2 separate regions of the Homo sapiens genome follow, and region 2 is linked to region 1. Evidence: fine-mapped expression QTL. A gene starts in region 1. The other region holds a variant in brackets. All regions are shown on one strand. Distances are from middle to middle.

What was found. PIP is the estimated chance that this variant, and not a neighbour inherited with it, causes the effect.
Region 2: its variant is the best candidate, but not a certain one, in a credible set for the expression of SERBP1 in sun-exposed skin (GTEx, PIP 0.66).

The regions. Positions count from the first base shown.
Region 1 is chr1:67,428,593-67,433,111 of GRCh38, reverse strand. It overlaps SERBP1 (SERPINE1 mRNA binding protein 1), which reads left to right and starts at 2,710. Exons shown (of 8, transcript NM_001018069.2): 1 at 2,710-3,124. The coding sequence starts at 2,812. RefSeq lists enhancers at 2,059-2,238, 2,269-2,348, 2,559-2,828, 2,266-2,901, 3,537-4,173.
Region 2 is chr1:67,380,557-67,384,556 of GRCh38, reverse strand. All of the region lies in intron 14 of IL12RB2 (interleukin 12 receptor subunit beta 2), which reads right to left. Among named protein-coding and RNA genes, the nearest start is that of SERBP1, 48 kb to the left of the region's middle. The variant TG/G (reference allele first, on the strand shown) is at 2,075.

The sequences.
Region 1 (4,519 bases):
GTTAACATTAGGCAACTCTATCAGATATTTAATCATGGTTTTCAGCATTTATTGCTAGAAAATCCTTGTAGATAAGACTGTGAAGTTTCATGAGTATTTTTCAGAGAAGAAGATGTGATTCAAATATTGCTACAGAGAGATGACATTTTAGGCCACATGTCTAGTGATATCGTCTGACACTTGTTGCTTTCATAAATCATTTCTTTAATTTGAATAATAGTGTCTAGGAAATTTCTCTTCCCTTGAGGTTTATTTGGCTGATGTTCTCCTATTGAGAGTAGCAAGAACTTTTAGACATTTTAATATTTAATATTAAGAAATTAATATTTCAATTTTGTAGAATAAAGGAAACATTAGTGAAAATAACTAGTTATAAAATAACGATTGAGAGATGTAAAAGACCACCTTGAGCTTTATTTGTATACTTTAAAAATGGGCTTCAAAACTTTTTGGAAATATAGAAGATTCTCCCCTTTTCTCCAAATGCTTATTCATAACATTTTTATGTAATCTTAATAGGTAAATTCTCTGAAGAGCATAAATGAACCTCATAAATTCATAGCCAGAAAATTCCTCTATGTGTAGCTTATTTTCAAATATTCTTATTGTAATAATGCTTGGTGGTTACGAAGCTCTGTTTGAGCAAACCAGAAATCTGTAATGGAGGAGAAAAATGAATAACAACAGGCCTGCCCCACCCCCCAGATTGTGGCAGGAGTAGTTAACTTACTTAAGCTCTTTGTTTTCATTTTCCTAATCTTAAAACAGGAGCAATAACTTTTTTTTTGCGGGGGGGAGGTATGGAGTAATAACTTTCTTATAGAGTTGATGTAAGGTTTAAAGGAGATCACGTATGTAAAGTGCACCAAGCACACACTAAAACATCACGTTTTAGTATGAATATTGTTACTGTGGCCGTGGCCAGAAAGAGTTAAGAAGAGGAGCTTTCACAGATGTCTCAAAGATGCAGGCAGTCTCAGAGACGCAACAGCCCGTGAAGAGAGAAAATCTGTCAAAATGTGGAGATCTTCTACATTGCACTTGAGCTATTTCAAAAAGGTGGGAAGAGTATGGTCAAAAGCTCCTTGTCTTGGTAGGTGCCACAGAACCAGAGCCTGTGGAAGGGGGGATGAGATAGGGGGTGTGTTTGAGGTTGGGCGTTGTGGGCAGGGTGCAGGACTGAGGCAGCAGGGAAATAAGTGAGGAATAGGGGAGGATTGAGAAACAAGAAAACCAGGAGGCTTGCTGCCCCATGTATGTAATATGACTCGTGTCTTCTATTTTCCCTGCTAAGGAATTGATTTAAAATCTGCTCGGAAATTGATGATTACATTCCGCCATGTTACATATCCTGACACGCAACAATGTTTAAATTATATCGGAAATTTAAAAATTGGACTGCTTTCTATCAGGGCAGTCTGAATTAAAGAGCTGATGTCCAGTCTCCTAGTGGAGATAGAATACTGGGCTAATGCCTGTCACTAGCACTTACAGAGGTGTGAATTTGGTAAATCATTTCATCTCTGAAGTGGTTTCAACATTTGTGAAAAGAGGCAAACTATTTGCCTAACAAAATGTTGAGTTCAAGGTTATTCATAGCTCCTACCAAATAAGCGATGCATTTGCTACTTTGTGTTAATGGAAAAGGACTTAAAAATTATGATATACTTAAACCCGGTGCTACCAAATGTGCTTAAATACGCATTCAAATTGTATTCTTTTAATGAATTTTAATATTCTCAACTAGTATCAATGCTTTGTCATTATTAAGTGTTGACTTCAATATTTCCCTCCCCTCACCGCAACTCCTAGCACACATGCACTCGAAATGTTCTCAAATGATATGTATTGAGCGCATGTGACTAACAACACAGCCACCTAAGCCCTGACTTGCCGGACACGAACGGACGATTAATTGGAATAATTGTAACAGGGTTTCTATAAACAGTGCTTCCTGGAGGCTTGCCCCGCGTCTAGCGCTGCACCGTCAGGAGTTAACCACTCCTACGACACCCGCCGCCACACGGTGAGAAGCCCGGGAAAGACGCGCCACGCTCCCATGTGATAGTTTCACTTGTCTTTTTGGTTAGTTCTGCTACCCTAGTTCATGTCCCCGCGAGAGGAAACGTATTCCCCCTCACATTAGACAGAAGAGCCTCGATTCACCGTGGAGGCTGACGGAGGGCCACTCCAGCAACTGAGCAGCTCGGACTTGGCACAGGCAGGGTCCAGCCTACCCGCGGCCGGCGCGGCGCCTCAGCAACACCCCCTCCCCCGGAAGTTTGTGCGTCTCAGATGTAAGGTCTGGGAGTCACCTTGACCCCCCTGGAGCGGTGGGGAAAGTTAGCCCTGAGCCCGAGGGGGCGTGAGTGAAACCAAAGAGCACTTTCGCGAGTCAGTTACGCCGTCACGGTTTTTTGGTTTCAAGGTAGCTGAAGACCTAGAGAGTTTAAGGGTGGCCAGAGCAGGTGGCAGGACTCCGCCCACCACCACGCTTCCCTTCCTTCAGCCCGCACGCTTCACTCCCCTCATGGGGTCTCGCCTCTCAGGCGCGCGCGAAGAGTTGTCGCGCGGTGCGTCCTGGGAATTGTAGTCCCGACGCGGAGAGTCGCCTCAGGAGAAATGACTCTGGCCTACATACCCCACAGTGCCTTGCGGCGCAGGCCGCTCCCGGATGTGTGCCTGGCGCCGGAAGAGAAGACGGCCCCCCTCTCTCGGCCCGGCCATCTTGTGGGAAGAGCTGAAGCAGGCGCTCTTGGCTCGGCGCGGCCCGCTGCAATCCGTGGAGGAACGCGCCGCCGAGCCACCATCATGCCTGGGCACTTACAGGAAGGCTTCGGCTGCGTGGTCACCAACCGATTCGACCAGTTATTTGACGACGAATCGGACCCCTTCGAGGTGCTGAAGGCAGCAGAGAACAAGAAAAAAGAAGCCGGCGGGGGCGGCGTTGGGGGCCCTGGGGCCAAGAGCGCAGCTCAGGCCGCGGCCCAGACCAACTCCAACGCGGCAGGCAAACAGCTGCGCAAGGAGTCCCAGAAAGACCGCAAGAACCCGCTGCCCCCCAGCGTTGGCGTGGTTGACAAGAAAGAGGAGACGCAGCCGCCCGTGGCGCTTAAGAAAGAAGGTAAAGCAGGGGCAGAATGTGGGGGAGACTGGGATGGAGGGAAGGAGCGAGGGGGCTGCCGGCTGCCACTTGTTTCTGGAGCTCCGAGGGTCCGCGGGAGACTTTGCCGCCTATATCCTCACGTTTCTTCACGCGACAAAAGTCCGGTCCTGCGAAGGTGCCAGGAGCGTGGTAGCCCCAAGTTCAAGCCACCGCCGGCGAGGTTCTCGGAGCCATCCCCTTCCCGCCTCAGGTTGTGAGCAGAGGAGCGTGGTCGGAGATGAGCTGCTCCTCGAGCGCGCTCGAGGTCCTGGGAGGCTGTTGCCTTCCCGCCGGATTCCTTGGCGGGTGAGCGCATGGACTGAGGTGCGGGGAAGCCGGCCCCTCACCGAAGCTTTCCGTAGTTACGGAGGAGCTTGGGGGTCCATCGCTGCTTACTGCGCAGAGCTGCTCCTTTGAGGTGCTGTTGTTTCAGGCTCCTGTCCTGCCGTCTTGTCCCACGACGGCGCGGAGTATCCCCGCTGAAAAGCAGGGGGTCGTTCCAGGCCATCAGACGTGTGGAGTAAGCTGCAGGTTGGGGTGCCGCATGTCCTTTATTTGTTTCTCTTCCACCTCTCAACTGTTAGGACTTTCTCATAACTTGCTGGGGTGAGTTGAGCCGTTGGGAAATGGAGGAGTTTGGCCACACTCGATTAACCAGGAGCGGGAATTATGAATGAAGACTGGTGATTGCAGGACATCCCGAGGAACGTCCTCGAGTCACGATCCTCTCTCTCGACTCCCCAAACTGAATCTTTCACGTGGTGGGGTCTGGGCCTCGTGGGTGAAGTGAGTGCAGAGGCTGTCACAGCGTTAGTCGCAGCAGAGCTCTTTAGAGTTCGCAGTTTTTTTTTTCCACCACATGTGCGTGAAGCATGGTCAGAGTTTCACTGGCGGTTAATAGTTGTTTCTAGGGCACTGTGAGTTTCACAGGATTGTCTTGATTTTTGCATTCGCTTTACCAGTTTGTTGCGGATGAAAAAAAAGAGCAAGCAGTTTGGAGATAAGAACGTGCATGATCAATAGCAAGCAGGTGTTGGACCTAAGGTCTGAATCTTTAAAGCTGCATTTATATGTTGAAAGTTGAAATTACCCCTTCCTGCCACGTGCTTCTCTGAAAGGAGTTGTTTCTCTTTAGCTTTAGTTGAATTCTGTAACAGTGAACTAATTTTAAAAATCAAAACAATTTTCTCGTGGTAGGATTTGTTTTAGGAGGGTTTTTTTTTTTTTTTTTGAGGACTTTTGTGAGGCTCGGAATGAAGAACCTCGGTCCTAGGTGGTGAATAAAAGAAAATAATTAATTCTTGTGGTAAAATTATAGGTTGAGGAAAAATACAGTTGGAGTATTAGAAAGCATGTATATCACTTAGGCCAAGT
Region 2 (4,000 bases), 48 kb after region 1:
GAGCCAAATGTTAATTACCAAGACAATGGGGAAAATATCTCCTGAGCATGTTAGGAACCTTCATGACAGCCCCTCCCATCACAGGCCTGGAGGCCTAGGAGGGAAAAATGGTTTTCAGGGCTGGGTCCAGGGCCCCCACTTCTGTATGCAGCCTTGGGACTTGGTGCTCTGCATCCTAGCCACTCCAGCTGTGGCTAAAAGGGACCAACATACAGCTCAGGCCGTTGCTTCATAGGGTGCAAGCCCCAGGCCTTGGCAGCTTCCATGTGGTTTTGGGCCTGTGGGTGTGCAGAGGTCAAGAGTTCAGGTTTGGAGAACTTTGCCTAGATTTCACAGGATGTATGGAAGTGCCTGGATGCCCAGGCAGAAGTTTGCTGCAGGGGCGGAGCCCTTATGGAGAACCTCTGCTAGAGCAGTGTGGAAGAGAAATGTGGGGTGCAAGCCCCTACACAGGGTCCCCACTGGGCACTGCCTAGTGGAACTGTGAAAAGAGGGCCACTGTCCTCCAGACCCTAGAATGGTAGATCCACTGACAGCTTGCACCATGCACCTGGAAAAGCTGCAGACACTCAATGCCAGCTGTGAAGGCAGTTGGGAGGGGGCTGTACCCTGCAAAGCCACAGAGGTGGAGCTGCCCAAGGCTGTGGGAGCCCACCTCTTGCATCAGCATGACCTAATGTGAGACATGGAGTTAACCTATTTATGCCTGAGGTTGCAATTTTTTGAATTTTTGCATGAGTGAAAAATCTGACCTTGGCAATGACCTTGAGCAGTAGGATATAAACAACTCCCACATGCTTAGCATTCCAATAATGGAACACTAGGCTTAAGTGGATCTAGGCAGGAGATCATTTTGGAGCTTTAAGATTTAATGATTGCCCTACTGGATTTTGGACTTGCATGGGGCCTATAGCTCCTTTGTTTTGGCCAATTTCTCCCATTTGGAAGGGGTGTATTTTCCCAATGCCTGTACCCCCTTTATATCTAGGAAGTAACTAGCTTGTTTTTGATTTTATAGGCTCATAGGTGGAAAAGACTTGCTTTGTCTCAGATGAGACTTTGGACTTGGACTTTTGGGCTATTACTGGAATGGCCTAAGACTTCAGGGGACTGTTCAAAATGCATGATTGTGTTTTGAAATGTGAGGACATGAGGTTTGGGAGGGGTCAGGAGTGGGATGATATGGTTTGGCTGTGTCCTCACCCAAATCTTATCTTGAATTGTAGTTCCCATGATCCCCACATGTGGTGTGAGGGACTTGCGGGGAGGTAATTCAATCATGGGGGCAGTTATCTTCATGCTGTTCTCATGATAGTGAGTGAGTTCTCACAAGAATTGATGGTTTTCTAAGGGGCCTTTCCCCCACTTGGCTCTCATTCTTCTCTCTCCTGGCACCTTGTGAAGGACATGTTTGCTTTCCCTTCTGCCACGATTATAAGTTTCCTTAGGCTTCCCCAGCCCTGTGGAACTGTGAATCAATTAAACCTCTTCCCTTTATAAATTATCCAGTCTCAGGTATGTCCTTATAGCAGCGTGAGAACAGACTAATTCACATGGGATATGTATGAAAACAGGGGTATATGCAATGTCCACAGCAGTGTAGCAGAGAACAGCATGGAAAACTGGCTCACAAGTAGCAGAGGAAGGTTTTGCAAAAGGCACAATGTCAAAAGTTTAGAGTTGATTAGCTGGGCATGGTGGCAGGAGCCTATAGTCTCAACTACTTGTGAGGCTGAGGCATGAGAATCACTTGGGCCCAGGATTTTGAGGCTGCAGTGAGCTATGATCATGCCACTATACTCCAGCCTGGACAATAGAGTGAGACCCTGTCTCAAAAAAAAAAAAAAATGTAGAGTTGGAGGATGAATAGGAGCCAGCTAAATGGATAAGCTAACAAAGGAAGACCAGACCAGAAAAAAAAAACTATGCAAAGGCATGGAAGGAGGGAACAGCCAGTACTTTCAGGCGACTGCAGAAAGTCTGGTCTTGCTCCATAATGAATGCTGAAGTGTGTGGCAAAGGATCAAACTAGATGGGTAAACAGGACCATGTGTACCTGGCAAGTATGGAGTTT[TG/G]AGTTCTAGCTTGAAGGCCCCTGGGGAACCACTGATGAGTTACAACAAGAGAAGTAATGCCAGCATCTGCAGTCTTGCAGAAAGACTCCTCTTCTGATTGAATGAAAAACAGGCTGGGAGGGAGAGTGAGCAGGAGGAGCTAGAGGCCAGAGACCTGTTAGGACCCATGAGAAGTGTCAACAGGGCTGAATAGGGAAGTTAATGGAGGTAACCTTTTTTCTACCCCATACAATCAGGAGGATCTGGCCTTCCTTTCTTTTTTAATTGAGATGGGGTCTTGCTATGTTGCCCAGGCAGGTGTGGAACTCCTGTGTTCAATCAATCCTCCCACCTTGGCCTCCCAAAGTGCTGAGATTATAGGTGGGAGCCACGGCACTTGGCCAAATCTCACGTTTCTTCAGCATCTGCTTTCCTTTCTGGGCAGATGGAACAAGTTTGGAGTAAAACCAGTAGCAAGATGCTGAGTCCTTTTTTGTTTTTATTTTTTTTTATTTTTGAGACAGAGTCTCGCTCTGTCACCCAGGCTGGAGTGCAGTGGTGCGATCTCAGCTCCCTGCAACCTCTGCCTCCTGGGTTCAAGTGATTCTCTTGCCTCAGCCTCCCAAGTAGCTGGGATTACAGGCATGTACCACCGCTCCCACCTAATTTTTGTCTGAGTCCTTAATCCACATTAATCGAGCAAGTTAACTTTCTTTCTTTTTTTTTTTTTTTTTTTTGAAACATAGTCTCACTCTGTCGCCCAGGCTGGAGGGCAGTGGTGCCATCTCGGCTCACTGCAAGCTCCGCCTCCTGGGTTTATGCCATTCTCCTGCCTCAGCCTCCCGAGTAGCCAGGACTACAGGCGCCCGCCACCATGCCCGGCTAATTTTTTTGTATTTTTTTAGTAGAGACGGGGTTTCACTGTGTTAGCCAGGATGGTCTCGATCTCCTGACCTCATGATCCGCCCTCCTCGGCCTCCCAAAGTCCTGGGATTACAGGCACGAGCTACCGTGCCCAGCTGCAAGTTAACTTTCATGGGAGTGCTGGGGAGATAAGAAGAAGTCTTGTCAATTTCCCAGTGGAGAGTTTCCTGGCATAGAACAACAAAGTCTCTTGAATGATCAACTTGATGCTTCATGTCACAAAGCAAGAACAGCTTGTTTTATGCTTAGAGCAGATGCAAATGAGCATTGCTAGAGAGAACAGTGTAACTTAGCTGGTGGAGGGAAGCCCATGCTAGCTGGGTCACTTATTCATCAGACTCAAATTTAATTTAAGCAACTCAAATCTGAGTTTGATTTGTAGTTCTGCCACTTACCACTTCCATGACCTTGGGTAATCTTTCTGTACCTTAGTCCCCTCACTTTAAAAAAGGCATGATAATCCTTCATTTTTAAATTCATTTCATATTGAGTGTCTGGTAGGATGGGGTAGGTATAACCATGTAATTTTGGTAAGGAAATATTAGCAAAAGTATGTGTTGTAGGTTGAACTGGGTGATCCTCAAATTTGTATGTTGAAGTCCTAAACCCCCAGCCTCAGAATGTGACCTCATTTGAAATTAGGATCATTGCATATATAATTAAGATGAAGTTATACTGGAGTAGAGTGGGCCCCTAATCCAATATGACTGGTGTCCTTATAAGAAGGAGACAATTTGGACACATGGAGAATGCCAGATGAAAGCAGAGACCTACAAGCCAAGTAATATCAATGACTGCCTGCAAATTACTGGAAAAGAGGAGAGAGGCCTGGAATAGATTCTCTCTCATAGCCCTCCGAAAGAACCAACCCTGCTGACACCTTGATTTTGGACTTCTAGCCTCTAGAACTGTGAGACAATAGATTTCTGTTGATTAGGCCACTCAGTTTGTGGTGCTTCGTTACAGCAGCCCCAGCAAATTAATGTAGTATACAAAGCGCTTAACAGAATGACTGTTGCATA